Linked DNA regions of Homo sapiens. The protein of the gene in region 2 interacts with the protein of the main gene of each other region in a pairwise test. Each region holds a gene or a part of one and is shown on either strand. Other genes may lie near its edges.

Region 1 (3,621 bases), on a different chromosome or scaffold from region 2:
ACCTGGCACTTCAGCCGTGGGAAAGCTCACTCTAGGCTACAGAGGGCTATGGAAGGGGAACAGAATATTCCAGAGCCACTCACCTGGGTGGGCACCACCAGGACCTTCCTCTTCCAAGTCACCCAGCATCTCTGTACCCAACTCCGCTTCTCCCTCTGTCTGGCCAAGGACCTCTGGGTGGGAAACAGCACAGTGTGAGCCCAGGAGAGAGTGAAAGCTCACTGCACACTGATCAGCTGCCAGTGACCAAGATGACCAATGGCAGGGAGGAAATATAGATTCAAAGGCTACTGTTCTTGTCAGTTTCCCCTAGCAGTTTGGGACAATTATAAAATTCTGGCCAATCATAACAACTGACTTGGCTAGCTGCTGCCTCCAGTGCTCCTCCATTAGAGGGGCTGTGGCTCAGGCAGGCAGGCTACAGAGCTACCACTGCCCTTGATGGCACCACCACCCACCTCTGCCTCTCCATGTGCGTGCAGCTTAAGTCTTGCCAATGCTTCCTTTCAGGGGATCTAATTTCATCCTTGCTAAGGCACTGCAAGGTAAGATGGGCACTGGGACAGACAAGGAAACAGTCACAATGAGAGCATGTGACCCAACCAAGCTTACAAGGTCACTTTTCTGGCCCATTTTCTATTTCCTTTACCTCCTACTCTGCTCCAGGCACTTGACACTCCTCCATGTACCTAGGTTTTAAAAGACTTTGTCTACCAAACAAAACACATTTATTATGTAATAGGTAACATTTTGCATATAAAGACTTATATCTATTAAGCAGCACTCCTAATCAACAAGAAAAAATCACTGAGACCACAATGACCAGCTATAATTCCGGCCAAACACCAAGAAAATGCTTTTGATCAGCCTGTGCTGCCTGCCTCATCCAAGGTAACATAGGGTTATCAAATCATCTTTTTTTTTTTTTTTTTTTTTTAAGCAACAGAGATCTCACTATGTCGACCAGGCTGATTTCGAACTCCTAGCCTCAAGCTATCCTCCCACCTTGGCCTCCCAAAGTGTTGGGATTACAGATGTGAGCTACCACACCCATCTCAAATAGTCTTAAATATTAAAAACAGCATGAGAGGCCAGGTGCGGAGGCTCACGCCTGTAATCCCTGCACTTTGGGAGGCCGACGTGGGTGGATCACTTGAGCCCAGAAGTTCAAGACCAGCCTGGGCAACACAGTAAGACCCACGTCTCTACAAAAAATTTAAAAAATTAGCCAGGCGCAGTGGCATGTGCCTGTAATCCCAGCTACTCGGAAAACTGAGGTGGGAGAATCATTTGAGCCCAAGCTGTCAAGGCTGCAGTGAGCCGAGATCGTACCACTGCACTCCAGCCTAGGTGACAGAGTCTCAAAAAAAAAAAAAAAAAAAAAAAAGATAAAACAGGCCAGACGCAGTGGCTCACACCTGTAATCCTAGCACTTTGGGGGGCTGAGGTGGGCAGATCACGAGGTCAGGAGTTCAAGACCAGCTTGGCCAACATGGTGAAACCCCATTTCTACTAAAAATACAAAAATTAGCTGGGCGTGGTGGCAGTCACCTGTAATTTCAGCTACTCGAGAGGCTGAGGCAGGAGAATCGCTTGAACCTGTGAGGCAGAGGTTGCAGTGAGCCAAGATTGTGCCACTGCACTCCAGCCTGGGCAATAGAGCAAGACTCTGTCTCAAAGAAAAAAAGAAAAAAAAAAGATAAAATAAATTAAAAAACAACATGAGGAACCCTAGCCATATCACACTATAGGGTATATGACATTTTATTTATTAGAAAATACTATCAAGAACAGACTATGTGACCACAGGAAAAAAAAAAAAAAAACACAAAAGGCACAATGCTGCGAGCTTTCCAAAAGTCTCTGTAAATGGGAGGACCTAGAGACTGGCATTTCTCCACCCGTGCAGGTCTGTAAATGGGAGGACCTAGAGACTGGCATTTCTCTGCCCGTGCAGGCCGACAGAGGACCCACAGCCACAGGAGCCACAGGTGTGGTCTGAATTACAGGCTGCCAGCCAGGAATTGTAGTATGTCTGAGACAGAATTCTAGGGAGAAAACTGCTACTCACTCAGAGAGACCAGTGTCTCATAGTTACTCTCCATCACGTTTCTGTAGAGCTCCTTCTGCCAATCCTCCAGATTCTCCCATTCCTGCTCGGTGAAACAGACGCCATCATTCTCCAGTGACCTGGACACCTGGAATCACCAATGGCACACCATGAGTGCTTCTACTCACAGCTATGACAGAAAAGCCAGCAACTGAGGTGCTTACATATTAAAGGGCTGGCTCCCCCTTCTCTTCTAACTTTTAATCCTCAATGAGACTACCTTGGGGGCCTCCCCCTTGCTGCCCGGGGGCAGCCGCAGGATCCAGAAGTTCCTGTTGCGCAGCAGGTTCTCCACGTTCTCCAGCCGCCTCTGCAGTAGCCCATACTCCTGCAGCAGGGTCCCCAGCACGGCCCACTTGCCCTCCAGCTGGTTCCCGAACTCCACGGCCATCTTCTCGCAGTCAGCCAGCTTCTTCTCGGCTGTCCCCGTGCGCCCCTCCAGGCTCTGTAGCCGGGCAGCCTGGGACTCCATCTTCTTCTCCACAGCCTGAATAGCGGCCACCACCGTCCAGAGTGAAATCTCGGTGGTCTGAAAATAGGAGCTTTTCTCTGTTGCTTGTGAAGGAAGTGTGGAAGAAGTTAAAGGTGTGGAGCGTCGTTTTCTCCTGTGCTGATGGATTAAAGACACAGGGTCAATGTCACTTCCAAACATCAAGTAAAGAAAGCAGTGTTCAAGTGTATCAGTGCTCAGAGTTATCTAGTTTCTTTTAATTAAAAAAAAGCATGTCTTTTATTGATACTAAAAATTATACATAGATATTGTATTAATAATGTTGGAAAATGATGAAGAATAGAAAGAAAATATTACACAAAATCTTCTCACACACAATAAGCTGTTAGGGCTGGCCGTGGTGGCTCACAACTGTAATCCCAGCACTTTGGGAGGCCAAGGCAGCTGAATCACTTTAGCTCAGGAGTTTGACACCAGCCTGGCCAACAAGGCAAACCCTGTCTCTACAAAAAAGTTCAAAAAATTAGCCAGGCATGGTGATGCATGCCTGTAGTCCCAGGTACTTGGGGCACTGAGGTGGGAGGACGGTTTGAGCCCAGGAGGTTGAGGCTACAGTGAGCCAAGATCGTGCCAGTGCACTCCAGCCTGAGTAACAGAGTGAGACCCTGTCTCAAAAAAGAAAAAGAAAGAAAGAAGCTGTTTGAATTTTGGTGTATTTCTAAAGTTTTTTTTCATCTTTTAGTTTATTTTTTTTCAACAAAAGTGAAATTATAGCGTGTATGTTCTGTTACCTATGCTTTATGCTTAGCATATTCTCTGAGACTCCTGTATCAGTGTTCATTTTTAAACCTATTTTTATTTAATGTTTTGGACTATATGATAAAAGATGTCACTTACATCTTATCTTGCTTCCACATCCCTGCCAGACTTCATAGTTGATCATGTCACCCGTTTGAAAACTTTCAATGGCTCCCCACAATAAAGACAAAATTCCTTAGCAGGACCTACAAGACCTAATTCATTCATCTTTGCACTCTAGCAGCTGGGATGGTGAATAAAT
Region 2 (4,287 bases):
TCCCAGAACAACCTATTTCCATGTGAGTTTGGGAGGCTGTGATTACCACACACATTCCCACTCCTAGCTAAAATCAGTAGTTATCAGCAGGTGGTAGCTATTCAGTGCCGTGGGCAGCCTTCTTAAAATAGTCTTCTCCATGGCTCCTGGTCTGAGAAGGCTCCAATTTCAGAAGTCTCTGTGTTTTACTAATAAAGGCTGATTGTGGCTGGGTGGCCACACAGGCCTCGGTTACTGCTCACTGGGGTCAGCTGACATTCAGCTGTTGGCACCCCCAGTGCAGGGAGCGATTAGCAATGCCTGTCACTGGCAAAGGCAGGCCGACAGTGGTGTGTGTGCTGAGTGTGAGCATCAGCAGAAAAACTCAGTCTAAACCCCTTTGTTCTTCTCTTGCAGAGCTTTTGCCTGCAAGGCTGTTCTGACCACAGTGGGCGTTTTGGGCCCGTTTACAGGCTCCATGTTCTGTAGCCGTAGGGGCACCACGTCTTCCTCTGCTAAGCTGCTGTTTGCTGCTGCCTTTCAGAAATTGAGGCCAAGTATGATAAGAAGATGAAGATGCTGAGGGACGAACTCGACTTGCGGAGAAAGACTGAGCTCCACGAAGTGGAGGAGAGGAAGAATGGCCAGATCCACACGCTGATGCAGCGCCACGAGGAGGCCTTCACCGACATTAAGAACTACTACAACGACATCACCCTCAACAACCTGGCCCTCATCAACTCCCTCAAGGTGCTGTGCGTGGGCTGGGCTGGGGAGGCACACTCTGCCTGTCCTAGAATGTGGGCTGCAGAGTCCTGGGGATCCAGACCCCAGCTCTCCACCCCAACACACCCAGTACTTTTTATAAGATTGTTTGACAATGCCCCTCTCATATCCTTAACTGAAATTCCTAAATAACGTAACCTATCTCTACCTATTGTTAAAAGCAGTCAGGATATTGCCCTCACCGTAGTGCAGAGGGGGAAGTAATGAAGTGTGTTCTGGTTTGTAAAAGCTCAGATGGAACCGCAGTGAGGGCCGTGATGTGGCTGGAGTGGATAGGTGTCATAGTCACTGCCTGCGACAGGTGGATAGGTGTCATCGTCACTGCATGCTGGCAGTGACAGGATTTTCTACAGTAGACAACGGCCCTTGGTGGAATCTTGAACAAAGTATAGTCCTTCAGTCTGCATGGAAGCTGCATTCCCAGAAAACTCAGAATAAGTTGAAGCTGCAGAAATACTGTTTATACATAGAAGACGTCTAGGTGCCAGCATGCCTGAGGCTGGCAGCAGCTGGTGATGGGCAGGAGAGCACCCAGCTCTCACCATGCAGGCCACAGCCCCTTTGGTTCTGCCTGCTGAGCCCCTGCCGGGCCTGTGCTTGTGCCTGCAGGAGCAGATGGAGGACATGCGGAAGAAGGAGGACCACCTGGAGAGGGAGATGGCAGAGGTGTCTGGGCAGAACAAGCGCCTGGCAGACCCTCTCCAGAAGGCTCGGGAGGAGATGAGCGAGATGCAGAAACAGCTCGCAAACTACGAGAGGGACAAGCAGATCCTGCTTGTGAGTTTCCCGCTGGATTCCTCTCCCTCCTTGGCATGAGCTTGCCTAGGCTCAGGAGGGAGGAGCATCACAGGGAGGGGCTTGGCCCTTAGGGCAGGAAGGGAGACGGGGAGGCCTGCATTTCTCCTTTCTCTGCCTCGTGTTCTCCTGGGGAAAGTAAAGTCTGGGGGTGTTTTGGAGACAAGGCCCTCATCTTCACCACGTGCTACCGGCCGGCCTTGGTGAGACTCAGCTGCTTGTGTCCTGGAACCAGGTCTTTCTGGCGATTATTTTTGGCCTTGCCATCTCCCAGGAGCCCGTGTTACTTGGATGACTGTGAATCTTGAATACTTTCTGTCCCCTACTCCCTGTTTTTCCTCCAGTGCACAAAAGCCCGTTTGAAAGTCAGGGAGAAAGAGCTGAAAGACCTGCAGTGGGAGCATGAAGTGTTAGAGCAGCGATTCACCAAGGTGAGTGGCACCACGCTGGCCCTGCAGTTGGCGGTGGGTGTTAGAGCAACGGTTCACCAAGTTCACCAAGGTGAGCGGGCACTAGGCTGGCCCTGCAGTGGGGATGGCACCCCTGCTAGCCAGGGACGGGGCTCTCCTTGTGGCCCCTGGACCAGCTTCAGATGCCTTGGCCAGGTTTCTGGGTTCTGAAGCTGGAGGCCCTGTTCCCTGTAACTCATTCCGCAGCTTCTAAGAGGCAAAAACCTGTGGCCTGTTCTGCATGCATATTCTGCAGAAGGCCTGGGGTCTTGATGGGGAACGGATCACACATGACTTTCGTCCCCTCGAGAGCTCACCTCTGAAAGCACATGAGGGAGGCTCTTAAGTGTAAGTGAAGATGAGTCTCCGGCTGCTCAGTGCTGGTCCTCACACTGGCGAGTTTTATGGGCTCCCTTCCAGGTTTCCTGCATGCTCTCGTGTGGATGTGACTTTGTATGTTACGAACACGGGATCAGGCCATAAGCACAATTTGCTTTTTAATCTCACAGTGTATCAGGCTGCACATAGGAAGCGGTCTCATCCTTTTCACAGCTGCTTGGTGCTGCGTTTTGTGAACGTTTGATCATTTAGCCGACTCCCGTCTGTTTCTAATGCTCTGCTGCTATAAGCATTGCTGCCTCAATCCTTTTAAATTTGTCTTTGTGCACTTGTGTGAGATTGCTTCTTAGGAAAGCCAGTTCCTAGCAGTGGGATTGTTGAGTCTGAGGGTTCTGTTCTGAGGACCCTGATCATCTGTCCAGAGGGCTGCTCTGAGTCACACACCTGCCAGGGTGCGGAGGGGCCGTTTCCATCCTCACCTGCACCAGATCTGACAGGTTTAAACCTTTGCAGAAGTGACTGGGTGGAAAACATCTCATTTCGTGGGCACTTCCAAGATTCGCAGTGAGTGGTAGGGGTGCTCGGTCCTGTCTCTGTCCCTTAAAGACGCTCCTTGCCTCTGTTCAGTTTCAAAGTTCTGGCCAAGGACCAATCCCTGCAGCATGGGCCCCTCAAGGCTTTGTCTGTGGTGTGCGGGGCCAGGGCATCTTATCTTGAGCCGCAGTTATATGTGCTGTTTTGTTCTCTAACCTAATTGAAATTTTTGAACACAAACCGTTGTAGTGGGATTCGCTTCTCAGAAATATCCCATCTGTCTGTCAGATCTAGCCCCACCTTCAGAGACACCTCAGGTCCTGCACGACGTGCATTGCTAGGCTGTGCCAACTCTTGGCACCTAAGGGAAGGGCACCTGCAAGGTAGTCAGTGAGATCCTGAGGACTGCTGTGTTAGACAAGGGGCCCTTCCTTCTCCCTGTGGGTTTTGAGGTGGACATTATTGGGAAGAGGACAGCAGAGACGTGCCTGGGTTGGAGCCTTGTTTTCTGTCACATTTTCTTCCATTTGAATGTGGTTCCTGACAGTGTCCAAGCTGGTGTCTCTTCCTAGAGAACCGAGAGCTCAAATTTATCAGCAAAATTTAGAGACCAAGGCAGTTATTTATTTATTTATTTATTTATTTATTTATTTATTTATTTTTGAGATGGAGTTTCGCTCTTGTTGCCCAGGCTGGAGTACAATGGCACGATCTCGGCTCACTGCAACCTCCACCTCCTGGGTTCAAGTGATACTCCTGCCTCGGCCTCCCGAGTAGCTGGGATTACAGGCGCCTGCCACCACGCCCGGCTAATGTTTGGTATTTCTGATAGAGACAGGGTTTCACTCTGTTGGCCAGGCTGGTCTCGAACTCCTGACCTCAGGCGATCCACCCACCTCACCCTCCCAAAGTGCTGGGATTACAGGCGTGAGCCACCACACGCTGCTCAGGGTGTTCACTTTTTTATAGTCTTCAACAAAGTCTAGATTTTTTTAGAATGCACAATTAATAAGTAGAAGAATTAGGAGATAAAAAAGAACAGTTTTACTGGCTGGCAGGTAGCTGGCTCCAAGGCCGTGCTCCAGATCCACCATTTGTGGGGCGGACAGCACATGTGATGCCAGGATCTGGGGCTGGCCAAGGGAGCATATCCTCCAAGGGGCCCCACCTGCAAGCTCGGCCTGCTGGATGCCCTGGATCTCAAATCTCACCTGAGCCCACAGCCCTCACTCGGGCAAGACTGGCCTCGGCCACCCATGAAGCAGCTTTCAGGGTGGGGCTGCTTCAGCTCTTACCAGGACACTTATGGCTTCCAGAGACACCTTCCTGAGAGAAGGGCTTATGCTGATGTGTTCCTCCTGCCTTCCACTGCGTGGATGGCTCTACAAAGGGCCAGGGCGCAGGC

What was found. The genes of interacting proteins can lie anywhere in the genome.
Region 1: the proteins of DRC4 (region 2) and ZNF212 interact in binary tests that used the Homo sapiens proteins (3 or more experiments, as listed by UniProt).

Annotation. Positions count from the first base shown.
Region 1 is NC_000007.14:149,249,258-149,252,878, reverse strand, and holds part of ZNF212 (zinc finger protein 212), read right to left. Parts: intron 2,721-3,621; coding exon 2,331-2,720; intron 2,199-2,330; coding exon 2,072-2,198; intron 174-2,071; coding exon 84-173; intron 1-83.
Region 2 is NC_000016.10:90,035,858-90,040,144, forward strand, and holds part of DRC4 (dynein regulatory complex subunit 4), read left to right. Parts: intron 1-523; coding exon 524-729; intron 730-1,374; coding exon 1,375-1,542; intron 1,543-1,904; coding exon 1,905-1,991; intron 1,992-3,903; exon of another isoform or gene 3,904-4,287. UniProt on the Homo sapiens protein: Component of the nexin-dynein regulatory complex (N-DRC), a key regulator of ciliary/flagellar motility which maintains the alignment and integrity of the distal axoneme and regulates microtubule sliding in motile axonemes.